Linked DNA regions of Homo sapiens. The protein of the gene in region 1 interacts with the protein of each later gene in a pairwise test. Each region holds a gene or a part of one and is shown in the gene's direction. Other genes may lie near its edges.

Region 1 (7,034 bases):
CATGGCTCACCCAACCCACAGGGAACAAATGTCTTCCAGCAGCTTCTCAGGAGGCATGGAGGAAGTGGAGAGGGCTCCAGCCGGACACCTGGAGACCTGGTATCAGCTGTGCAACCTTGGGCAGGTCACTGCCCTCCTGCCATCTCTGGGCCCAGATGATGAGAGGGTTAGCCCTCCAGCCCAGAGAATCTGGTGGCCCTCTTAGGTCTACTGACTGGTCTGGTAATCACCTGTGTTGTCCCTCAAATTACTAGGACTAGGGATGTGTGGCGCAAGTGTGTTATCCCTTGGTAAGGCACCCTGGTCCTGGAAGAGACGCTTTATATGGCCCTTCTTGGACTCCCCTCTGACCTTGTAGATGACAGAGCTGGGAGCCAGAGGGCGCAGACCAGGGAGTAGAGCTGGGTGAGAGCTGGTGGGCAAGCCAGAGGGCGCCAGGTTCTGAGAAGGAGTGTTTCTAGAAAGACCTAGGCACACAAACATTTCTGGGAAAGGTTAGTTCCCATTCCCCTGCTGTGGCCAGGGGGCCCCAAACCCTTCTTTCACTTTCTCAGCTTCTGTCCCCTAGCCAAGAAACTCTCTGACCCCTCTCCTCTCCATATCATGTGGTTGGGAGGCCAGGTCCTTGCTTCACTGCCCAGTGTCAGGGCAGGGACAGTAGGGAATCTGAGGCCTTGCTGAAGTCACAGGGCTGTCAAGGAAGGGAGCATGGGGGCAGCACGTGGACTTCCTGACTCCCAGCTCAGAGCCCCATCCCTCACATGGGGCTGCCCCATCTGGGATTGGCATGACCTAGGACACAGTATGGAGACCCAGAGCAGGGTGTGGCCTGCCACCTGCAGACTTTGGGAGGCTTACCTGTGGCTCCTGAAAACACGTGATCTCTGGCGAAGAGATCATTTGCTGTCTCCGGCTTCCCAGGGTCAGGGCATGGTGACTTTTGAGTTCCTTCAGAGCTGACCTGGCACCAGCCATATGTGCCAGGGTTCTGAGTATCAAGTGTGGACTTTGGCTCCCATGTGGCCCCCTGATTCTTGGATGGGTCTGGGCCAAGAGAGCAGCTCTACTGCAAGGGGTGGGGTGAGGGGAGATGCTGCGATTGGGAGGCCAGGTGCTCATCTTGCTGTGCAGACATTTCTGAGAACTCACCAGGTTCACCCCAATGTAAAGCCACATCGGGGGATGCCTTACCAAGAACTCAAGAGGACGTGGCCTGTGGCAGGGAGTAGTGAGAATGGGTGCAGGGGATGGTTTCTGATGAAAGGGGAGTCTGAAGTGCAAACTTGCAGGAGGCATGTGCCCAGTGAGTTGCATTTTCCCTAAGGGTGAGAAGGTGGTTCAGCCCCTGGCCTGGCAGTGAATACAGTAGGAAACTCAGGGCTGGGGGTGTGAACCATTCTCACCCAGCCTGCTGTGAGGCTGTACAGGTTGTGGGAGGCTCAGTGTTTTGTCTGTGATTGGCTTGAAGGAGGCAATGCCACCTCCCTGGGTCTGCCCCACCAGGGATGCCATCCTAATAGAGGGTACTCATGGGCACTTAGGTTCTGCCCAGGCCTTGGGCCAGCCTCTTGATGGGGTATGGAGTCCATGTTGGGGCAGCAGTTCTAGGCAGAGCCAACAACTGCCTGCCCCTCACCTCTTTCCCGCATGCGTCTGTGCCCCACCCTGTTCTTGGATTCTTACCATATTCACCTGGAGGGGGTGCCCTGAGCCTGTGACCAGCATGGCTTTTAGTCTTGCCGAAAGAGCCACCAGCGTTAGGCTGAGGGAGGCTCTTCACTAGGAGGAGAAGAGAAAGTTTCTGGACTCCTTGGGCTGTTATCTACCCCTGCCCCAGGTGGCTCTACAACCAAGATGAGTTTCCGGTGCTCTGGAGTGTTATGGCAAACAAGAGGCCACTAGTGGTGGCAGGGGCTCAGTTTCTTAGCTTCTTACCCTCCCCAAGGTGGCCATCCACATACGTGGTGTGTGTCTTTGAGGTCTTTGAGTATCTCTGTGAGGTGGCTGGCCAGTGTGGCTGGCTGAGGGGTCATTCTCCAGCCAGAGTAGGTCTGTCTATGACCAGGAAACCAAGAGAGGCTTACACACCTGACAACAACTGGTCACCCTACCAACCTCTCAGCTTGTGGCCTCACCACTGAGACCACAGGCTCTCAGCCACAGCCCTATACTGCTCACTCTGTACCTGGCCCAACCTTGCAGGCTAAGCTTGCCACAAGTACCTTAGTGGTCTCCAGTAGTGCCTGGCACAGGGCTGGTGAGAGCTAGTGAATACACACTCTCTCCTGCTGGAACTGGGCCCCCTCACCCACAGGCAATCATTTGTTAGGTGCAGAAGAGGCTTGGAACATGGAGGGTTGGACCTGCTGGCCAAGTTCTGCCTGCTTTGGACTTGCCACCCTCAGGGTGGGTGAACATTGTTGCTGGGTTTGGGGGCCTGGAAGGGTGAGATGCTTTTTGGAACCCAGCACTGGGGAACTTATGTGGAAAATGGGTGTGAGTGATCTGGAGCCCTCTGCTCCATTGGGCCTGGCTGATGGCATTGGGGTGTGGGGGAGACCTGGGGGTGTGAGACTCAGAGGGTGGTGCCACAGAGAGCTTGCCCATCACTTAGAAAGTAGCCAAGAGGGCCAGGCGCTGTGGCTTACACCTGTAATCCCAGCACTTTGGGAGGCTGAGGCGGGTAGATCACCTGAGGTCGGGAGTTCGAGACCAGCCTGACCAACGTGGAGAAACCCTGTCTCTACTAAAAATACAAAATTAGCCAGGCACAATGGTGCATGCCTGTAATCCCAGCTACTTGGGAAGGCTGAGACAGGCGAATCGCTTGAACTTGGGAGGCGGAGGTTGCGGTGAGCCAAGATCGCGCCATTGTACTCCAGCCTGGGCAACAGAGCGAAACTCTGTCTCAAAAAAAAAAAGAAAAGAAAAGAAAAAAAGAAAGTAGCCAAGAGGTTTGTCTGTGGGCCAAGCCCTGCCAGTGTGGGACACACTGCGATGAGTCAGACCTCAGGTCTTCCTATTATGGCGTCTGGTGGGAGAGGCACACCCCATCCTTAGGCTAGACCTTAGGCTCAGGGTGGAGAAAGCCGTGGTAGAGCCTGGCCCAGGCTTGAGGAAGGCTTTCTGGAATAGGTAGTCCTCTTTTCAGATCAGGGAAGCACCCACTTGCTGCCCACCATCCCCAGCTCCCTGAGCCAGTCTTTCCTGAGACCTGGGGTCCCAGGAGTCCTGACCCTCTGGGGGGCTTCTCTGCCCACATCCAAAGGGATGCCTTTGAGAAGGAGCTACACTGCCCTTTCCTTGTCTCATGCCTGGCTACTCAGGTGTCCCACTCCACTGCTGGTTAGAAAAATTTTGGCCATTGGACGGCAGGAGCCTTCCACCCTTTACCCCTACCCTATGTTGGTTTACAGGCATAGTCCTTGCAGGCAGTGGCTGGGTAGGCAAGGCTTGAAACCCTCTTGTTTCCAAAGTGACAGTGTCTGAAAATGTCCTCCTGCTGCCAGGGCAGGTACAGTGCAGTCAGGCACCTCCCTCTGCACCCATGCCTGTTGACCTATGCCTGTGTATGCCACAGCCCTCAGGTCCTTAGTCAGGACCATGTCCCCCCATGGCCCATCTCCTCCAAAAGAGGGAATTCCCTGTCCCTTTGGCCTAGGAGCCTCCCTGGGGGCCTCTCAAGCCCAGCTCTGTGAGGAGGCTGGGGACACACCAGCTCCTGATTCTTGGCCACCATGAAACCACAGGCCAGGCTCAGGTGGGGCCTTGACCCCAGGCCTCAGTTTCCTCATGGGACACTTGTGAGGATTTAACAGATTAATACAGGAAAAACTCTGGGAGCAGGGTCAGGCCAGAGGGAGTGGACAGGAACTATCAGGTATGGTTCTTAGCTTTTTTCTTTTGAGATGGAGTGTTGCTCTGTCTCCCAGGCTGGAGTGCAGTGGCGCGATCCTGATCCACTGCAACCTCTACCTCCCGGGCTCAAGCAATTCTCCCTCTCACCTCAGCCTTCTGAGTAGCTGGGACTAGAGACATCCGCCACCATGCCCATGCCTGGCAAATTTTCACACCTTTAGCAGAGACGGGGTTTCACCATGTTGGCCAGGCTGGTCTCAAACTCCAAACTCAAGTGATCTGTCCACCTTAGCCTCACAAAGTGTTGGGATTACAGGCATGAGCCACCGTGCCCAGCCAGTTCTTAGCATTTCTGTAAGCACAGAATGGGAGGATGTCTGTAAAGGGCTTAGCTGGGGTTGATTGAACACTTAACATGAAACAGGTGTGGATTAGTGCATTTAATCCCCACCACATCCCCACGAGGTGGGCTATCCTCAACTGGGCTCAGATGTACAGATGGGGAAGCTGAGGCCTGGAGGGGCAGGGTGACTTGGCCATGCCCCAGCTGACATGAAGGTCAGTCTGGCTTTGGCTACCTCCCCTTCCTACGTTCACAAGGGTAACTGCTTAGGCCTCTGTACCAAGACCCCCAGGAGCCACGTTGGCACCGACTCTGATCCAGATCCCTCTGCTTCACAGGAACTGGTTGAGTGGGTGCTGGAAGAGGTGGCCCAGAGGTCCCATGCTGTGGGATCCCCAGGCAGCCCCCTCATTCTGGAGGTGGGCTGCGGATCAGGAGCCATCTCCCTCAGCCTGCTGAGCCAGCTCCCCCAGGTGAGCCCCTCCACCCACTCTGGATAGACTGTGACTGACACTCACTGTCCCTCCCATTAGTGCTTCCCCCACATCCCTCTGCTAGGAGCGCTTGAGGGGAAGCAGCTGGATGAGGGAGGACAGGGCTGCCCCTAGCCCACTGTGGTTCACAGACTCTAACGCCTACCACATCTATCTGGCTAGACTTTGGCCAAGAAGAAAAGGCTGTTGGGTATTTCCCTTCTCTTCTGGTGGGGGGTTGGAGGAGGGTCCCCCAGGCCCAGTATCTTCCAGCATCTCTCAGCATTGCCTTCCACATATCCTCTGTTTGTTCTTGGGACAGAGCCGAGTCATTGCTGTGGATAAGCGGGAAGCTGCTATCTCTCTGACCCATGAGAATGCTCAGAGGTAGGTGGGGGAGTTGCACTTTGGGGCCTAATCTTGACTCCTTTTCAGGTTTCAAACTCACCAATGTCTGATTTCTACTCCCAAGAAGGAGGAAGCAGTGGGGTAGCCTGGCATGGGTCCCATGGGGTTCTGAATGGGTAGTGGGCAGTGAGTATCTTGCCAGTCCAAGAAGGGTTGACTATAAGACCTCATTCTTGTAGTGAAGGGTAGGGGTCTGCCCCCGTGCCTACCCCTTTCTCCCTGTCTGTGTAGGCTTCGGTTGCAGGACAGGATTTGGATCATCCACCTCGACATGACCTCAGGTACCCTCCCCTGCATGTTCCTTGAGAGAGGGAGACTAGATGCAGGTGCTGCTGGGTGGATGAGGCACTCCGTGGAGATGGAGGGAGAGCTCCCCCAACAGCCACACAGCCACACACAACACACACACATACACGTGTGTGTGTGCACGTTTGTGGCAGCTCAAACGAAGCCTTGGCTGAGGACAGACAAGGTGCTTTTGCCTCCTAGGCTGACCTGACCCATAAGGGACCAGCCACAGAGAACTTCCGAATTCCTCACAACCAATGAGTTAAGGGCTTGCTTGTTGGCAACAGATAAGCAAAAGCTTAAAATAATGCCTTCAGGACCAAAATACTTGAGTGCCCCTTTCCCCCTGCCTGGCAGGGGAAGTGGTCCAGGCACTGCACAGCTCAGCTATAGCCTTTACAGTGTCTCCAGGCCTCCAACTCCAGTTCTGGCTCCATTGCCTTACCCGTGGGATCCTTGAGCCTCAGTGCCCCCTCCATGGAATGTGATATACTTGGTGTAGCACCTGGCACAGGGTGAAACCAGTAGTCAGAGCCATCAGGAATTGGCTGATGAGGCCAGGCCTACCCTCCATGTACTCTCAGTCCATGTTGGCTATAAGGCTAGTGGAGCTACAGAAGAGAAAGGCTCTTTTCTGCCTAGGCAATCAGGGAGGACGCCCTGGAAGTGGCACTTGAACAGAGTCTTGCATAATAAGGAGGATTTTTGGCAAGGACACTCTATGCCTTGAAATGAGGGGCTGCCATGTTAAAGCATGCACATTCCCCACCAGGCTGCCAGCTGGGGACCCTGGGCACTAATTTGCAGGTCTGGCTTATCAGATCCAGAGGCAGGCCCAAGGTGTGGCATGGTGAGAGGGACATGGTGGCAGGTGGAGCTATCATCCTTTACCTCCCAATGGGTTAGTCCCTACTGTGTGTCCTCTTCTTTGACGACAGAAAGGAGCTGGACACACCTGCCCTGGGGCCCCATGGACCTGATTGTCAGCAACCCTCCCTACGTCTTCCACCAGGACATGGAGCAGCTGGCCCCTGAGATCCGCAGGTGCTAAGCAGGGTGGGCCAGGGAGGCCAGGCCTGAAAAGGCCTGATGGGATTAGTCTGCCCTCGAGGACCACACCATCTGGAGGGACAGGGGAGTTGGTGCTGAAATGGGCAATGGTGTTAAGTTGACGCACTCGAGAGCCCACAGTCCTACCTAGATTCAGCTTCTACCTTCCTACTTCCTTACTTCCTACTAAAACTACTGGACAGCCACCGAACCTCTCTGGACCTGTTTCCTGCCTCTAGAAAAAGAGAGGTAGTGCTCTGCAGGGCCACGGGAGGACTCAGTGACGACTTGAAAGCATCAAACACAGTGGAGGGCTCATACAGGGTGCTCAGTAGATGGGCGCATCATTTTATAGAATACTGAGGCCCAGAGAGGGAAGGTGTCTTGTCTGTGGTCGCATGGGGGCTCAGTGGGAAAGCCGGGACTAAAAGCTGGCCCCAGGCTAGCTTTGTGCCAGGCCATCCTGCTCTTACACAGGGGCTGAGAACCAGGGGCAGCCCAGGAGTCCTGGATGGGGCAGCAGTCATGTTGGATGGGGCTGGGGTGTTGGCTCTCCCTTTCTGGGCTCTCAGGAGTGGTCAGGGCTAGCCCCAGATCTCCCAGACCAAGAAGAG
Region 2 (7,571 bases), on another chromosome or scaffold:
CGAGCCCAGCCAAGCCCAGGTCCTGCTCCCTCCCCAAGCCTGACGCCTGACATCCCTCCACTGCCGGCGGCTGCTCTGCCTGCAGTGTGACAGGGAATCTCTGTTGCAACGGAGGCCAGCTCAGTCCAGCGGGGAGGAGGAGCTGTCCCGGGCCGGTGGGCAGGGCCAATTGGGAGAGACAGGTGTCTGGAAGGACCCGGAGGATGAGGCCTGGAGCTAAAGGCTGGACCCTGAGGACACTGTCCTGCCGGCTCGTCTGGAGCAGGTCAGGCCCAGCAGGGTAGGTGATAAACTCCAGCAGAATGGCCAGGGAGGGCAACGCTAGGCTGGGGAGGGAGATGGTAGGGGCCGGCCAGCCCACAAAGATGAGGGCAATCCAGGACCCCCTTGGGGTCATTTTCTCTGTGCCTGACAGGCATCCCCCGGATAGTCCCTCAGAGCACGTCCAGGCTGTGCCCACTTCCCAAGGACATCACCAAGTCACTGTCCACCCTCAGAGCACCTGCTCCTCACACACGCTGTACCCCGGACTCCCCCGGGTGCCAGGTGGGTGCTGTGCCTGCCTCTTGATTCTGGGAACCTCCTCTCCAGCCTGGTCCCTCACCAGAGGCAGCCCTTAAAGACCATCCGCCCTACCTCCTCATTTTACACTCGGGGAAACTGAGTCCCATAGAACAAACAGGCAGCCGCACCAGGCCTCCCGCTCTCAGGTATGCTCTTCCACCCCCTTCTCTGGCCTCAGGACAGCCTGAGACTGGGCAGGATCCAGAAGAAAGGGCTCTGTCCTGGTGGGGAGGGGTTCGCCCAAGGCAGTGACCGGCTCTGCCCAGGGTTCCCTGGAGTCTGGCTCTGGGGACAGGGTGAGGGGCAGACTTGCCTGTTTTCAAGAGCTGAGGGATGGGGGAGAGGATGGGGAACCTGGACCCTGGGGCAACCTCCGCTCAGGACTGTCCCACTCAGCTGCCGGTCCGTGCCTCTGCACTGGTCACTGGGTGGACGGCAGACGCATGGCATCCCAGGACACTGCACAGGGAACAGCTAGCTCCAGGTCACCTGAATGCCATTCTCAACTGGCCCTCTCCTCCCAGGGATAGGCCAGCGGGGAACGAGGAGTGACCAGAACCCAGGACTCCCGCCCTCATCTGACAGCCACTTAGCCCACTTCCCACTGGGGACTCTTCCTTGGAAGGTTGCTCTGGAAACCCCCTACTGTGTGGGGTAACCTCGCCGGGCACCCCACCCTGGCCGAGCACTGCCATGCCACACAAGAAGGATGGAACCTTCCTCCCCAAGCTGGGGTGGGGCAGGGGCTGGGGGAGATGGAAGGCCCTGCACCGCCCCCAGCCTCCCTGCCACTCCCCACACCTGGGAGATGCTCAGGACCCCCATGTAGCCACGGCCGCTCCCCCCAGCTTCTTACCAGGTCGAGGACAGATGGGGACGGACGCTGCTGCCTCGGCACCTGCTGATTAGTGCGGCCCACCCTGAGGGGCGCCCCTGTTCCCCAAGGTGGTTGGGAGGGCACTCGCGGGTCCTGGGGAAGTTGGATGGCCCTGGGAATGGCGGGTCCTGGAGGGTGCGGGAGCCTGAGGGGGAACTTGGGGGTCTTAGGTTAGACCGGGGCCTCCCCGCGTGGGGAGGGCGCAGCAGACTGTACCTGGGGGCGCATTGGCCGTCGTCAAACTCGAAGGTCCGGTTGGTGTAGCCCCCGCCGCGCGCCTCCCGGCAGACGCCCCCCGGGGTCCGCGCCCCGTCAGGGAGTGGCATGCGGCCTGGCAGCTCGGACCCGACCCGAGGGAGAAGCGAGTGGGAGCCGCCACCTTCTTCCCTCGCGTTGCCCTGAAAAACATTTTTTTTTTCCTCGCAGATTAGCGAGGAAAAGACGCCAGTTCCAGGGTCGGGTGCAGGCGTCTGTCCGCGCGCGCCCCCTGCCGGCCGCGCCGGGACCCGCGGCGGCTCTGGCCCAGGCTGGGACGGGGGTGCGGGGTAGGGAGGGCGATCCGCTCCCGCCGCGGCCCTCTGAGCCCTCAAAACTCCGAAAAACAGGACGGGGTTCGTCAATGGCTAGAAAAGCCCAAGCGCGCCGCCACCGGGCCCTACACCCCTGGGAGGGCTCCGTGGTGGGCGGGGGCTCAGGGGGCTCTGGGTCCTTGGCGGGCAGCAGGGCACATGCGCTGCTCGGACCGCCAGCGTCCAGCCGCTGCGCCCAGGGACCGTCAGCACCTCCCGCTTGTGCTGCTCTGCCGTGGTCAACACTGGTCATTGAACACAAGCCAGATTCAAGACGACTCCCCGCCCCCCCGCCCCCACACCCCCCGCAGGCTGCGGCATCTGTGGGTGGGCGCCACATCCTGGGCTTGGCCTGGGGGAGGGGGATGACTGCACCCCGCCCTGTGCTCTCACCCAGACGGGCACACACAGCACCTTTAGACGGGTGGGGAGGGGCCCCAACTTAAGATGCTGCAGGCCAAAGACTAGGAAGCAGAGGGTCCCCCTGCGGGCCCCCTTTCCCGTGCACGTGCTCACACTGTTACACATGCGTCACCCTGGCTCAGCCTCACACAGAGCTCTGGAGAACTGCGATTTCTGTCCCCAGAGCTTTGTTGGTTTGCAGGGTGGACCAGGCCCCTCACTAAGCCAGGACTGTGCCCACGAGGGCCAGGGGGAGGGCCAGGTCCATTTGGAGGGCGCATGCCATGTACTTTGTGGTCCCTGGCCTCCCCAGTGTCTCTCCAGAGGGTCCTTCCCTGTTTCTCCAGGAGGCAGCAGGCTGAACACAGATGCTTTTGAGGGGTGGGTGGGGAACACTCGGGGAAGTCTAGGATGCTAAGTCCCCAGCAGAGGTTCAGCCTGTGCCCCCGCCACACAGCTCGTGGGCATCTTGGGGGTTTTTCCTCAGGTCCCTAGATTGGCCGGTGCTGCTGCCGGGGTCCCACCACCCCTGGGCGGGTGCCGCCGGGGCAAGATGGTGGCCTTTCTGCCAACGCCCTCCTGCCTGGGGAACTCAGAAAAAACTGAGAGGCCGCACCATCTGCATCTGTGATTAATTAGCAGTAATTACACGTGTTGTCAACGGCAGGAGAGTCACAGGTTTGATGACATTCCGAGGGCTTTAGGGAAACAAAAACTTGGCCCCACTCTGCCACTGAGGAGCCCCAGATCGCCAGCCCGTCCATCCCTCCCTGGCCAGGGGCAGGGCCGGGAGAGGGGCCCAGGTCCCCGAGAGCTTTTGCCCTCCTCTCCAACCCCGTCCTCCTCCATGTCTGACCTGCAGCCAAGGCTGGGCGGAGCAGGGATGGAGACACCACCTTATATTACATAACCTCCCTCTGCTCCAAACACCCTTCACCCATCTTTGGCCCAAAGTCCAGGATGCCAGCCCGAGGCCCAGAGCCGCGCCTTCTCCACAGGAGACTGGGGCACCCCGGACAGACGTCCCCGTGTGGTGGCACCTGCCCGGGCTCCTTCTTGCCTCCCCTCTCGGGAGGAGAGCCCCTGCCACCCACCCCACCTCCTCCCGCTACGACCTCAGCACGAGCCAGGCCAGGGATGTCCTCCCAACAGTCCAGCCTCACCCCCCACCCTCGTCCCCTCTGCTTCCCTGAGGGCCCCCCGCAACCTCCGTGAAAGAGGAAGGGTCTCCACCTCCCCCTTCCCTCCGTCATCCCCCCAAAAGTATGTACTGGGGGACTCAAGCCCAGCGCAGGGCGGCTCCTGGAGTTCAGCGGGGAGGTGAGCAAACACCTGGCGCCGGAGCTTTCTGAATTTGGATGGGCAGGACCCCCGCGATCCCGCAGAAACCTGTTGAGAGTGTGAGGTGAGGGGTCGAGCTGGGGCCCCAGGGCATAAAGCGGGGATGGTGCTTGGGCAGGGCCAGGTGAAGGGACAGACGGTTCCGAGGGTGCCCGGCAGAGCTCAGCGGGAGGAAGAGCACGGACGATGGTGGCCTGGGGTGGGGACAAGATGCCCCTGGTTCTGGGCGACCCAGAAGTGTGGATGGTGACCCTACCCTGAGGCGCAGCGTCTGCAAGCGTACTAGATTTGGGGGAAAATGGAGGCGTGGGCGACTGGGGAGCAGGCGGGTACCCTTCCCCCTCCCTGTGTCCCTGGGTCCCCCAGGCCTGGGCTAAACAACTCAGCCCAGCCCGCCCACTCCCACCAGGGGCTGGGCTCCTAAGGGCAGAGCCCGCATCTCCAAAGTGCCCAAGGGCACCGAGACCACCGCATAAGTGGGAACCGAGGCGACCCCCGGGAAGGTAAGGGTAGAGGCAGGGCCACCTGGGCTGGGGCCCCTTCCCCTGGCGTCCTGCGGGGGCATAGAGTGGGTGGACCCCCCGAGTCCCTTTCCAGCACCTTCTTTGCAGGAACGCGGGTCACGTGGGCCCCGGGCTGGCTGCGTGGGGAGGGCTAGAGCGCATGCGCTATGGGGGCGGATTGCAAGTGGGGGTGGGGTGGGCTAGGTGGAAAGCACGTGGCAGGTGGGCAGAGCACACGTGAGGGGGCGGGGCTGCCTGCGGAAGGGGCCGTGCGCGTGGGGTCGCTCCGCAGCTGCGAGTTCATGGCGTCCCGGTGCTCCGAGCCCTACCCGGAGGTCTCCAGAATCCCTACCGTCAGGGGATGCAAGTGAGGAATTGGGCTGGCGGCCAAGGGGTTGGGGGCCCAAGGCCTGTACCCAGGGGTTCTTCCGCAAGTTGCTGGGCTCCACCCATCCTGGGCCTCCTGGGGCGGAGCCCTGGACCCTGGGAGAGGGGAAGGGGTGCAGAGAGGGCCGGGCCGTGTCCCTACGTGACCCAGTCTTGGCTTCCACCCGCACCCCAAAGACGCCCATTCTGGCATCTGGGACTCCTGGTGGCCTTTTCTGGGGTTCTCAGGGCCCGGTGCTCTTGGCTTTCTCGGCAGCGGCTCCCTGTCTGGTGCCCTCTCCTGCTGCGAGGACTCGGCCCGGGGCTCGGGCCCGCCCAAGGCCCCTACGGTGGCCGAGGGTCCCAGCTCCTGCCTTCGGCGGAACGTGATCAGCGAGAGGGAGCGCAGGTGAGTGGTGGTGCCTCCCAGGGGTGAGGGCGCTGTAAAGGGGTGGAGCGGGTGAGATTATGTTCGGGGCTGCCACCAGGTGTCAGGCAGCTGGGAGGGGCTCGTGGCCTGTGCCCAGGAGAAGGACAGACTGCACATCTCCAAGTAAACCAGAAAAGCCCTGTTGGGGAACATCCTGCAGCCCCTCTTTATCCTGAAGCCTTGGCCTCTTGAGGCTGTGCACCTGTGACCCTCTGTGCTTCTGACTGCCTCTGACCCTCGCTGTCTTTTCCACACCGCAAAGCAGCCATGGTTTGGGCCTGGGCTGGACAGCCTGTCGCCGAGGTCCAGGGGTCAGGCCCAGGCTGTGCTCTGATGTGGATCTCGGGGCTTCAGACCACGGGGGCAGCTCTGAGTCATCTTGTAGCCCCCTCTGCCTGACAAGCGCCCAGGGTCTATCTGGCAGGTTCTAGCAGTTGCTGTCCCTTCTCGGGGAGGGCAGGAGGGCCCAGAGGTATTTGTTTCTTGACCGGAACCAGGAAGCGGATGTCGTTGAGCTGTGAGCGTCTGCGGGCCCTGCTGCCCCAGTTCGATGGCCGGCGGGAGGACATGGCCTCGGTCCTGGAGATGTCTGTGCAGTTCCTGCGGCTTGCCAGCGCCCTGGGGCCCAGTCAGGAGCAGCACGCTGTGAGTTGTAAGGGTAGACGCCGTCAGTCCTCCGGCATCACGGTGATGGGACATCTCACCACCTTGCAGGCAGTGTGTCCCCTGTCATCCCCGTCTCCTTCAGCCCTCTGGGTCTCCACGGCTAGAGCAGGCCACGTTTTCGGCAGGGCACTTCCTGATTTGTTCAAGCCTTACCTGTTGTTATTCTGTTCCTGGAAAGGAGCAAGCCTTCCTTTCCAGCCCTCCTGTGCCCCTGAGTCCTGTTCATTGATGGGTTGCCGAGATGCTCCGTGCCAATTTGGGGGAGAGTTGGGGTCTCCTGATCCTCCCTGGCTGAGCACCCCCTAGATCATTTCTCTGCACGTCTCCAAGAGAGAGGCTCCTCTCCCCTCTCCAAGGCTCTGGGGGCTCTGGCTGACCCCGTGAGTGCTGGGGCTGAGGACCTGTGTGGGGAATGAAACTGTGTTGTCATCTGTGAGGTCAGGGGTCCCAGCATTTGCAGTGAGGCCCTTGGGTATGCACAGCCTGATTCAGGAATGGTGGGGCCTTTCGGGGGTGGAACCTCAGCCTCGTTGTCAACCTGTACTCTCGCCCCCAAGTTCCAAGCGGGGACCGAGCTCACAGTGACCCTCCAGGCCCTGGGGTAGCAGTCTTGTCACCGTGTCTTGGGTTTCTCAGCTGACTGTCTCTGTCTTTGTTTTACATGTTTACTTAAATTTCAGATTCTTGCTTCCTCCAAGGAAATGTGGCACTCGTTGCAGGAGGATGTTTTACAGTTGACGTTGTCGAGTCAGATTCAAGCAGGTGTGCCAGACCCTGGGACGGGAGCGTCCAGCGGGACTCGGTTAGTGTCTCCTGGGGCCCGCTCTCCAGGGCTGGGTGACCCTGGGAGCAGCAGACCCAAAGCCCCCTGGCATGTCCTCGGGAGGGTGTGGCCTGGAGGCCCGGCTTGGCCTCCGCAGGTGGTGACCTGCCCAGGGCCCTGCCAACTCAGGTGGCCAGGTGTGAGGTGACCAACATGGGCGAGCTCCAGCAAGGGGGGAGCGCGGTCAGCAGAATTGAGGGCCTGGGCTGGTGTGGAGGTGGGAGGTGCCCGGGAGGATCTCTTCTGCTCCTGTGTGTGGGGAATTTACAGGTGGTCAGTGAGGTGTCATACTCCTCCCCATGGGCAGCTTCAGGAATGCAGTTTTCTGAAGTCAAGATAATTTGGTTCTTTTCAGAATGGCAGCTCCCCAGGTTGAAGGACTGTCTGCATCTTGTGTTTAAATGTACCCATTTTACCCCAAAGCAGGCTGGGGCATGGGACTGGTGGCTAATTAGCTGTGGAAGAATCTAGAACCGGAGGAGTTGGGCAGAGGGAAACTGGGTAGACAGCTGTGGAGCTTGGCTGGCCCAGGGCCCCTGGGCAGAGGCTGGCTTGATGCTGGGTGGTGCCTGGGGTGTCCTGGGGATGGGTCCAGCCCTCTGCTCTTGGGGTGGGTGGGGGCAGCCTTCCAGGGGGCTGGGGAATAGACCCAGGATCCTTGTCATGTTGCTCCTTCTAGAACCCCAGATGTGAAGGCGTTTCTGGAAAGTCCTTGGTCCCTGGATCCAGCGTCGGCCAGCCCAGAGCCCGTGCCGCACATCCTTGCGTCCTCCAGGCAGTGGGACCCCGCGAGCTGCACGTCCCTGGGCACGGACAAGTGTGAGGCACTGTTGGGGCTGTGCCAGGTGCGGGGTGGGCTGCCCCCTTTCTCAGGTGAGTCCTGGGTGTGCATGTGGGGTGCCTTTGGCCTGGGGAGCGGCGCCAGGCTGTGCTTTAGCCCTAAGAACAATGGGGGCTGTTTGCAAACGGGGTTCGAAGTTTTCCCAGGCCCTTGTGTTGGTGAGAAACCCACGTGTTGAGGGATGAGCTT
Region 3 (7,034 bases), on another chromosome or scaffold:
CAAAGAGCTGGGATTACAGGTGTTAGCCACCTCGCCTGGCCAAGAGTGTTATATCCCATTGTGCTCTGCAAAAGTCCTGAGATTCTGATTGTAGTTGATTAGGTCATGTAGCAGTTCTTGACTCAGTTACTGTGGCCAAGAAATGTGGAGGGCACTGATTGCCTTAACCTAGATCAAATGTTGTACACCTGAAGCAGAGATTGAGTCAGCTTTCTTGGAACTGTTTTGATCTCCAGAGGGAAGTCTGTCGGGAGAGGGAGAACAGATACTGCATGTCCACTACAAAGTGCTTAGCACAGCATATTAATTCAACCTTTATCAGTTATTTGATGAGCAGCTGCTCAATGCCAAGCACTGCATGGTCTTTGCCATCAAGGAGGATGCTCTCCAGTTGAAATTACTGGAGGTATATGGAGTAGCCAGATGCAAATTATTTATAAAGGTACTTTCCCAGAATTTGGGGGTTAACTTTTTTAATTAGAAAAAAAAAGATGTTAATGAATTTTTAGTAATCATACAATAGGATCTCAGTTTTGCCTTGTTTAAGGGAGAGCATCTCTTAACCAGTTTAGAATTGTGTTAGAATCTGAAAATTTTGCATTTCTTTTATGTATTTGTACCAAATAATTTTGTTTAACTGTTAATTCAACCTTTTGTTACTATGACCTAATTTTATTTAACCCCTTCTGGAAGAGTCCCATACAGTTCGAATATTCAGATCTGCTTGGCTGGTACAGTTATTGCCAGCAAAGTGGTGGTAGTGGCCACAAGTATGGGGAGTTATGCATTGGTGTATGGGCTATTTCTTACATATTAGAATTATGTAATTCTGTGTATTCTTACATGTTAGAATTATGTATATTCTCTGATAGACATTTTCCTAAATCAAATTGGTACTAGGATCACATCAGGAGACAGTGTCTCTCTTTCTCACTCTCATCTATAGATGTCGTTTCATCTAAAAAATTTTCTACGAGAATAAAGTGCATGTAAGAATGTTAAAACCTTGTTTACATATTTGCAATGTGATTGAAGTAGCTATCTTAATAAACATTTTAAGATCCTAAAGTTAGCAGTTTGTCACTGTCAGGTATTTCAACATAGATGTGTGTTCTTTTTCATATTCCCTGTACTCTTCAGTTCTTACATGACTAATGCACAAGTATAGTAGCTTGTATTTAGTAGGCATTCAGGTGGCTTTTAGTAAATTGTTTTAATTCATTTGAATAGAATTGAAAACTACCAATTTACTAAAGTCTCTTGTGTTTATGTTTTGGTTTAAATTAAGAAATTTATGAAATCATCAAATTGGTTTCCTGGCTAAAAATTAAAAGAGTTAGTCTATTTCTACCTTAAAAGTGTTTTGAACGTTCAATATAATTCAGAGTTATTGCAGTTTACTTGAAACTGCTTAATTAAAACTTACTTCTCTCGCCCAGGCTAGAGTGCAGTGGTGCAATCTCAGTTCACTGCAACCTCTGCCTCCCAGGCTCAAGTGATCCTCCCACCTCGGCCTCCCAAGTAGCTGGGACTACAGGCTTGTGCCACCACACCAGCTAATTTTTGTATTTTTTATAGAGATGGGGTTTTGCAAGGTTGCCCAGGCTGGTCTCGACTTCCTGCACTCAAGCAGTCTGCCCACCTCGGCCTCCCAAAGTGCTGGGATTACAGGTACGAACCACTGTACCCAGCATGCTTAATTAAAACTTATACATACAAATGAATATTACTTATAAATGTTCTCTTAGGAAAAAATAGTGAATTAAATATTTAAAATAATTCAGCTATATTTCAAAGTACTTACAGTGTCCCTATTTTTTGTGGACTGAGTTAGAACTGAACAAATTAATCCTGATTGTTGGATTGAAAATAGAAAACTTGGCCAGGCGCGGTGCTTCACGCCTGTAATCCCAGAACTTTGGGAGGCCAAGGTGGGCGGATCACGAGGTCAGGAATTCAAGACCAGCCTGACCAATATGGTGAAACCCCCATCTCTACTAAAAATATAAAAATTTAGCCAGGTGTGGTGGTGCACACCTGTAGTCCCAGCTACTCGGGAGGCTGAGGCAGGAGAATCACTTGAACCCAGGAGGCAGAGGTTGCAGTGAGCCAAGACCGTGCCACTGCACTCCAGCCTGGGTGACAGAGCAAGACTCCGTCTCAAAAAAGAAAAGAAAAGAAAAGAAAATACAAAACTTTACATAGTGTCTGCATTTTTTGTTTAGGAACAGATGTTGTTATTGTAAAGAATGGAAGAAGAATATGTGGAACAGGAGGTTGTTTAGCCAGCGCACCTTTACATCAAAACAAAAGCTATTTTGAATTCAAAATCCAGTCCACAGGTTGGTATAATGGTACTTTACTATTAAAAGTCCTAATTGTTCTAAATATTAAGAGTAATTTGTAACACATAAAAAAGATTCAGAAGGTAATATAAAAGCACCAAACTCTTAGAAGATCTGGGTCTTCCACCTCTTGTTGTGTGATCCTGGGTAAATTAGTTAATTTAGTTAAATTAGGTTCAGTTTTCTCATCTATAAAATGGGTATTACAGGAGCTGCCCATTCTGCCTCACAGGAACTCTATGTATGAAAGTGTTTTAAGACAAGACATGCTGCATAAATATAAGGCACTAGTATTTTTAATGGGATCCGGATGAACCCTCTTGTTTGGTCAAGCATATAAGGTCAAACATATAAGCAGCATATACTCTTGCTATTTATTTTAGGATTAAAGTCAATCTGTTGATTCTGAGTTTTTCTTTTTTTTTTTCTTTTTTGAGATGGAGTCTTGCTCTGTCACCCAGGCTGGAGTGCAGTGGCGCGGTCTTGACTCACGGCAACCTCCGCCTCCCGGGTTCAAGCAATTCTCTTGCCTCAGCCTCTTGAGTAGCTGGGATTACAGGCATGCACCACCATGCCCAGCTAATTTTTATATTTTCAGTAGAGACAGAGGTTTCACCATGTTGGTCAGGCTGATCTCAAACTCCTGATCTTGTGATCTGCCCTCGTCGGCCTCCCAAAGTGTTGGGATTACAGGCATGAGCCAGAGTTTTTCTCTTAACTCAGTTATTAAGATACCCTGATTCAGTGTTTTGAAGCAGTCATCAAATTCAGAATTCAGATAGAAGTCTGCAGTCTATATTTCTCTTTTTAAAATTTATGGAGTTTCTTGAACTGTAAAGCAATTCTATGTGATTATAATAGGTTAGTTAACTGTGCCTGTATTGTATATGGGAAAACTTTTAAAATAAAAGCTTTACTGTAAAGTGATCGGGCATAGTGGCTCACACCTGTAATCCCAACACTTTGGGAGGCCGAGGTGGGCAGATCACCTGAGGTCAGGAGTTCAAGACCAGCCTGGCCAACATGGCGAAACCCCATCTCTACTAAAGATACAAAAATCATCCAGGCATCGTGGTGGGCACCTGTAGTCCCAGTTACTCGGGAGGCTAAGGCAGGAGAATTGCCTGAACCCGGAAGACAGAGGCTGCAGTGAGCTGAGATTATGCCACTGCACTGCAGCCTGGGCAACAGAGTGAGACTCCGTCTCAAAAAAAAAAAAAGTGGCTGGGCGTGGTGGCTCACGCCTGTAACCCAGCACTTTGGGAGGCCGAGGGGGTGGATCACGAGGTCAGGCATTTGAGACCAGCCTGGTCAACATAGTGAAACCCCGTTTCTACTAAAAGTACAAAAAATTAGTCAGGCGTGGTGGTGGGCGCCTGTAATCCCAGCTACTCGGGAGGCTGAGGCAGGAGAATCGCTTGAACCCAGGAAGAAGAGGTTACAGTGAGCCGAGATCGTGCCACTGCGCTCCAGCCTGGGCAACAGTACAAGACTCTGTCTCAAAAAAACAAATACAAAAACAAAAACAAAACAAGCTTTATTGTAAATAAACTTCTAGTGAAATACTGCATCAGTAATGTGGGTAGAGAATAGGAAAATGAGAGTGGAGTAAATGAATCTTACTATTACTTGGCCAGCCTTGAATGATATAAAATTTCCCCCTAGGGCTTATTTTCTAAATTATTTTTACTTATTTATTTATTTATAGATGGGGTCTTGCTCTGTCACCCAGGCTGGAGTGCAGTGGCATGATTATAGCTCAGTGCAGCCTTGAGCTTCTAGGCTGAAGCAGTACTCCTGCCGCAGCCTTCCCAGTAGCTGAAACTACAGGCTCAAGCCACCGTGCCTAGCTCTAAATTAGTTTTAAATAATGATTTTCAATGGGGCATGGTGGCTTACACCTGTAATTCCAGCGCTTTGGGAGACTGAGGCAGGAGGGTTGCTCAAGGCCAGGAGTTTGAGACCAGCCTGGGCAAACATAGCACAACCCCATCTCTACAAAGAAAAGAAAAATTAGCTGGGTGTGGTGGCTTAAAATACTGGGTAAGAAAATGATTTTACACCTTATTGTTAATTTCTCCTCTCCATGATATTGCTTATGGTATATATTGTTTGTCACTCATTGTAGATGTAAAAACTGAAGACAGTACATTCCCACTTTTCAAAGGGAGAGCTTGAAATTGAACTCCAGGCCATTTAAATTCAATGTGTAGCTTTTAAAAAATCTTTTTGAGATAATAATAATGATGATGATGACAGCTAGCATTTTCTGAATACTTACTGTGTGCTTTACTTTCTCATGCTGTGGAGTACTTACACTGTTCAAGTGCTTTACTTGGATTATCTTGTTGTATCTTTTCATTACCTTGCAAGGTGAGTACTGTTAGAATCCTCAGTTCACAGATAAGGGAACAAAGAGAGGTTAGGTAATTTGCGCAAGATGATGTAGCAGAGTCAAGATTTAATCCTCATTTGCACTGTTCCAGGGCCCACTCTCTTATCTCCTAGGCTGTACTACATCTGTGGAGAACATAGTATAGTTTGCAAACTACTTTTATTTTATTTTATTTATTGAGACAGGGTCTGGCTTTGTCGCTCAGGCTGGAGTGCAGTGGAATGATCATGGATCACTGCAACCTCAACTTCCCTGGCTCCAACAATCCTCCCACCTCAGCCTCCTGAGTAGCTGGGGTTACAGGCACATGCTCCCATGCCCAACTAATTTTTGTATTTTTTGTAGAGACGGGGTTTGGGCATGTTGCCCAGGCTGGTGCAAACTACTTCTAAAAGAAGATTTTTTAAAAAGAGTAATAGAAAACAATTTAGTGTTAATACAGCACTTCCTTTAAAAAGTTTATACTCCCTTTTAAAATAACTCGATGGTTGTAGTCTTCAGATTTTGAGGGCATTTAAACTGTTATATTTTTAGGAATCTGGGGTATTGGTGTTGCAACTCAGAAGGTTAACTTGAATCAGATTCCTCTTGGCCGAGATATGCACAGTCTGGTGATGAGAAATGATGGAGCCCTTTACCACAACAATGAAGAGAAAAATAGGCTGCCAGCAAACAGTCTTCCGCAGGAAGGAGATGTGGTGGTGAGTTCCCTCATGGAGTTGCTTTCCACTGTAAATGACTAAATTTGAACTGCTTTTAGTATCTACAGCTTTGTCTGGGAGTTTGTGGTTTGAATTCCAAAGCAGTGGGATTGGATCTAATGAGATGGTGCATTTTCCAGGAGAGCACTTGGTGTAGATGTTGCACCCTACTCAACTGCCCCCTCCTTTTTAGAGCTGCCACTGGCTGGGAAAATCAGTGTGAACCCTTATTTCTACTCTGGAGAATTAATGACAGGCTGTCTGCTGATCACACATTCCTGTTTCTCTCACATTAGAGAAAACTTGGCCCACAATTCTAAAAGTTTGCTGAAGCTTATATTAGAAAATACTAGTTATTTTTAAGGCTGGATATCTCTTAGGGAAAATGTTCACATTTATTTCTTCTTCTTGTTTTTTTTTTTTTTCTTAGAGTCTCGCTCTGTCACCTAGGCTGTAGTGCAGTGGCATGATCTTGGCTCACTGCAACCTCTGCCTCCCAGGTTCAAGCTATTCTCCGGCCTCAGCCTCCCGAGTAGCTAGGATTACAGGCGCACACCACCAGGCCTGGCTGATTTTTTTTATTTTTAGTAGAGACGGGGTTTCGCCATGTTGGCCAGGCTGATCTCGAACTCCTGACCTCAAGTGATCCACCTGCCTCGGCCTCCCAAAGTGCTGGGATTACAGGCATGAGCCACCGCGCCTAGCCACACATGTATTTCTTAATTTGTTATGAAATTCTATTAAGAGAATTACAGCATTTTATCAGAAATGTTCATCTTCATTAAACTTAACCTAATTAAACTCTTCAGAGAACGGAACTCAAAATCCTAAAGCTTGATCGTAGAAAAGTTTTTTTTTTAGAAAGCAGAGGATAGTAAAAGTTACACGTTATTAAGACTTTTCTGTTTTTACTCCTAACTGGCTATATTTAACTCTTTACAAAGCTAGCACATTGAAAATGTAATCCAAAGATTTCTTTCTGTCTTTTCCAGATACTTCCTTCCACACTGCATTATCCAAAACCCCTCCCTATCCAGAGGTCAGGCCATTGATTTAGAACAGAGTCCTAGAGTCTCCTTCAGCCGAGGTGCCCTTGTACACTGAACCTTGGGTTCTCAATTCTGATATCAAGTTGAAAGGAATCTATGAATAATGAGAGAAGGATTCTAATAAGATGAAAAGATAAGAGAAATCCAGGTTAATTAATTATGAAAAGGTACAGTATTTTAGAAAGAATGAAGAAAGGTGTGGAAATTAAGATTTTTAATTACGGCCTGATCTTTCTTCTCTTTTTTGCAATTTAAAAAATATGAACAACTGTAAGTTTTTAATTGTTGGAAGTTTTTTTTCCAGAATTGACTAAAGAAAAAAAGGAGATGAAAGGCATAAGCCATTAAAAAAATCTGCTTTTTCCCATGCTTTTTGAATAGTTGGTTCTGTATTTGTAGATCATTGCCAGATGCCCATAATATGGAACATCCTTATTCAAATGGTAATTTCTTGAAAGAGAATCTTGAAGTCAAGTTGATGCTGTCAACCTGTTTACCCTAAAAGATGAAATTCAAACATAAGAAAGGATAATCAGTAACAAAT
Region 4 (2,973 bases), on another chromosome or scaffold:
AGCCATGATCACATTACTGCACTCCAGCCTGGCTGACAGAACAAAACACCACCTCTAAAAATAAAAATATAAAATAAATAAAAAAATTTAAAAACCTAAACATAGCTGCACTTTACTCAATATATTTACAGTTCTACATATGTAAAAACTTGTATATTGACTATGTTTTAAATGTGTAGGGGAAGTTTCTCACCTAAAGGAGTCCCATAGTGAACATTTAAGAGCAAATGATTCCTTTTTTATTTGTATTTTTGGTTTTGCCTCTAGCACATCAGGTATTCTTTAAGAAGGCTATGCCTCTGAGGTTGCATGATCATTAACTAATTCATAATTTCCCTTGCATATATTTGGGTATTTTGGTGTTTCAGCCTTTCCCACACTTTTTTTATTTGCATGTCTTCACGATCACCATTATATCTTTGTTCCACCTGTACTATTATTTACTCACTCTTTGTCTTTAAATCAAATCACGTTTCTTACTCAAGTAGATTTAGTTTTAAGACAAACCTTATGGCCGGGCACAGTGGCTCACACCTGTAATCCCAGCACTTTGGGAGGCCAAGGCGGGTGGATCATGAGGTCAGGAGTTTGAGACCAGCCTGGCCAACGTAATGAAACCCCGTCCCTACTAAAAATACAAAAAATTAGCTGGGCGTGGTGGCGGGCACCTGTAATCCCAGCTACTTGGGAGGCTGAGGCAGGAGAATCACTTGAACCCGGGGGGGCAGAGGTTGCAGTGAGCCGAGATCGTGCCACTGCACTCCAGCCCAGGCAACAACGCGAGACTCTGTCTCAAAAAAAGAAAAAAAGGAACTTTATGTCGCTACCATAAATGTGAAATTACTAGAACTCACAATAAATAGAAGTTAGTAAAGACACTGAATTCTAACTAGACGCTATTGCTTGTTGAAGGCTTTGATCTTAGGAGGATTAGAAAGCATTCTAGGCCAGGCACGGTGGCTTCCTGTGTGTAATCCCAGCAGTTGGAGAGGCTGAGGCAGGCGGGTTGCTTGAGCTCAGGAATTTGAGACCAGCCTGGGCAACATGGCAAGACCCTGTCTCTACAAAAACATACAAAACTTAGCCAGGCGTGGTGATGGCCACGTATGGTCCCAGCTACTCAGGTGGCTGAGGCAGGAGGATTGATGAACCTGGGAGGCTAAGGCTCTAGTGAGCCATGATCACACCACTGCACTCCAGCCTGGGTGACAGAGCCACACCCTGTCTCAAAGGAAAAAAAAAAAAAAAAAAGAATTCTAGTGGTGTGGTGTGGAAGACACATTCTCAGCAGACTAAGGTTGTATCTTTATAACCACAAGGATTGAAAAAGAACGGAAGGACAATAACTTTCTCATAAGGTGATTCAATGTTATTTAGTGCTGTTTCTGTGTACCATCAAAAATCCTCTTACTACACACAGAATATTATAACACCATCTCATTGTCCACATGAGCTCAGAAATTGGTCATCAAAGCAGAAAAGTCTTTAAAACATTGATCTCCGGCCGGGCGTGGTGGCTCACACCTGTAATCCCAGCACTTTGGGAGGCTGAGGCGGGCGGATCACAAGGTCAAGAGATCGAGACCATCCTGGCCAACATGGTGAAATCCCATCTCTACTAAAAATACAAAAATTAGCTGGGTGCAGTGGCAGACGCCTGTAATCCCAAGCTACTCGGGAGGCTGAGGCAGGAGAATTGCTTGAACCCAGGAGGCAGAAGTTGCAGTGAGCCGAGATCACGCCACTGCACTCCAGCCTGGGCAACAGAGCCAGACTCCATCTCGAAAAATAAAATAAAATAAAACATTGATCTCCAAGAAAGTAGATCATATCTGCTCTCTATCTGACCACATTGTTAAACTTGGTTATGTTTGCAGGTTAAAGAGGAAATGATGGACAACAGAGGCAACTCTAGTCTACCTGACAAACTTCCTATCTTCCCTGATTCTGCCCGCTTGCCACTGACCAGGTCCTTCTATCTGGAGCCCATGGTCACTTTCCACGTGCACCCAGAGGCCCCGGTGTCATCCCCTTACTCTGAGGAGCTGCCACGGCTGCCTTTTCCCAGCGACTCTCTTATCCTGGGAAATTACAGTGAACCCTGCCCCTTCTCTTTCCCGATGCCTTATCCAAATTACAGAGGGTGCGAGTACTCCTACGGGCCAGCCTTCACCCGGAAAAGGAATGAGCGGGAAAGGCAGCGGGTGAAATGTGTCAATGAAGGCTACGCCCAGCTCCGCCATCATCTGCCAGAGGAGTATTTGGAGAAGCGACTCAGCAAAGTGGAAACCCTCAGAGCTGCGATCAAGTACATTAACTACCTGCAGTCTCTTCTGTACCCTGATAAAGCTGAGACCAAGAATAACCCTGGAAAAGTTTCCTCCATGATAGCAACCACCAGCCACCATGCTGACCCTATGTTCAGAATTGTTTGAGTTGCTGTTTCCAAATAGAAATGAATAATATCACAAAATGGGGTCTCTTACGGCATCATTCAATAGTTTTTCCTAAATGTAATTTCCATGTGGGCAGGAAATAGCTCAAATGCTAACCTATGCTGGGTATTACTCGCTTGGGCTTCAATTGTACTAAACATGATCTCATGTAGGTTGAGGAGCTGCTCTGCTTCTTTCACGAACTCTAGGGGAGCAGGGGGCCCCAGAGTTTCTGCATGTCTCACCCTGCCCTTCTCACATGCTCGGCCAGAGGCTGAGCATGTGAGAAGCTCTCACGGAAGCTTGTGAAGCGTGACTGCTAACTACCTGATGCCGGTCGTCACTTCGCTGAAGCGTCGTGCTGAGCAATCACAATGAACTTCTCTTTATTTGTCAACATTTGGAGATTTTTACTTATTGGGGATTGACAAGAAGTCACCACCATGGGAAAGTGTCTTGGGGCTAAAGTGAAAGTAGTTTACAAAACCTTGTTGTTATTTGAAATTATTTCAGATGCATCATTTTCCTGCATGCAGAC

The links.
Region 2: the proteins of HEMK1 (region 1) and SOHLH1 interact in binary tests that used the Homo sapiens proteins (3 or more experiments, as listed by UniProt).
Region 3: the proteins of HEMK1 (region 1) and SPRYD7 interact in binary tests that used the Homo sapiens proteins (3 or more experiments, as listed by UniProt).
Region 4: the proteins of HEMK1 (region 1) and ASCL3 interact in binary tests that used the Homo sapiens proteins (3 or more experiments, as listed by UniProt).

Annotation. Positions count from the first base shown.
Region 1 is NC_000003.12:50,572,513-50,579,546, forward strand, and holds part of HEMK1 (MTRF1L release factor glutamine methyltransferase), read left to right. Parts: intron 1-858; coding exon of another isoform or gene 859-1,314; exon of another isoform or gene 1,315-2,188; intron 2,189-4,539; coding exon 4,540-4,674; intron 4,675-4,996; coding exon 4,997-5,061; intron 5,062-5,313; coding exon 5,314-5,363; intron 5,364-6,308; coding exon 6,309-6,414; intron 6,415-7,034. Other genes in the region: uncharacterized protein C3orf18, read right to left, coding at 859-1,314. UniProt on the Homo sapiens protein: N5-glutamine methyltransferase responsible for the methylation of the glutamine residue in the universally conserved GGQ motif of the mitochondrial translation release factors MTRF1, MTRF1L, MRPL58/ICT1 and MTRFR.
Region 2 is NC_000009.12:135,696,455-135,704,025, reverse strand, and holds the start of SOHLH1 (spermatogenesis- and oogenesis-specific basic helix-loop-helix-containing protein 1), read left to right. Parts: upstream 1-4,544; 5' UTR 4,545-4,558; coding exon 4,559-4,623; intron 4,624-4,899; coding exon 4,900-5,031; intron 5,032-5,549; coding exon 5,550-5,697; intron 5,698-6,398; coding exon 6,399-6,520; intron 6,521-7,220; coding exon 7,221-7,414; intron 7,415-7,571. UniProt on the Homo sapiens protein: Transcription regulator of both male and female germline differentiation. Suppresses genes involved in spermatogonial stem cells maintenance, and induces genes important for spermatogonial differentiation.
Region 3 is NC_000013.11:49,926,326-49,933,359, reverse strand, and holds part of SPRYD7 (SPRY domain-containing protein 7), read left to right. Parts: intron 1-2,225; coding exon 2,226-2,342; intron 2,343-5,274; coding exon 5,275-5,441; intron 5,442-7,034.
Region 4 is NC_000011.10:8,937,078-8,940,050, reverse strand, and holds the end of ASCL3 (achaete-scute homolog 3), read left to right. Parts: intron 1-1,877; 5' UTR 1,878-1,889; coding exon 1,890-2,435; 3' UTR 2,436-2,473; downstream 2,474-2,973. UniProt on the Homo sapiens protein: Transcriptional repressor. Inhibits myogenesis. Plays a role in progenitor cells which differentiate into ductal and acinar, but not myoepithelial, cell lineages in the salivary glands.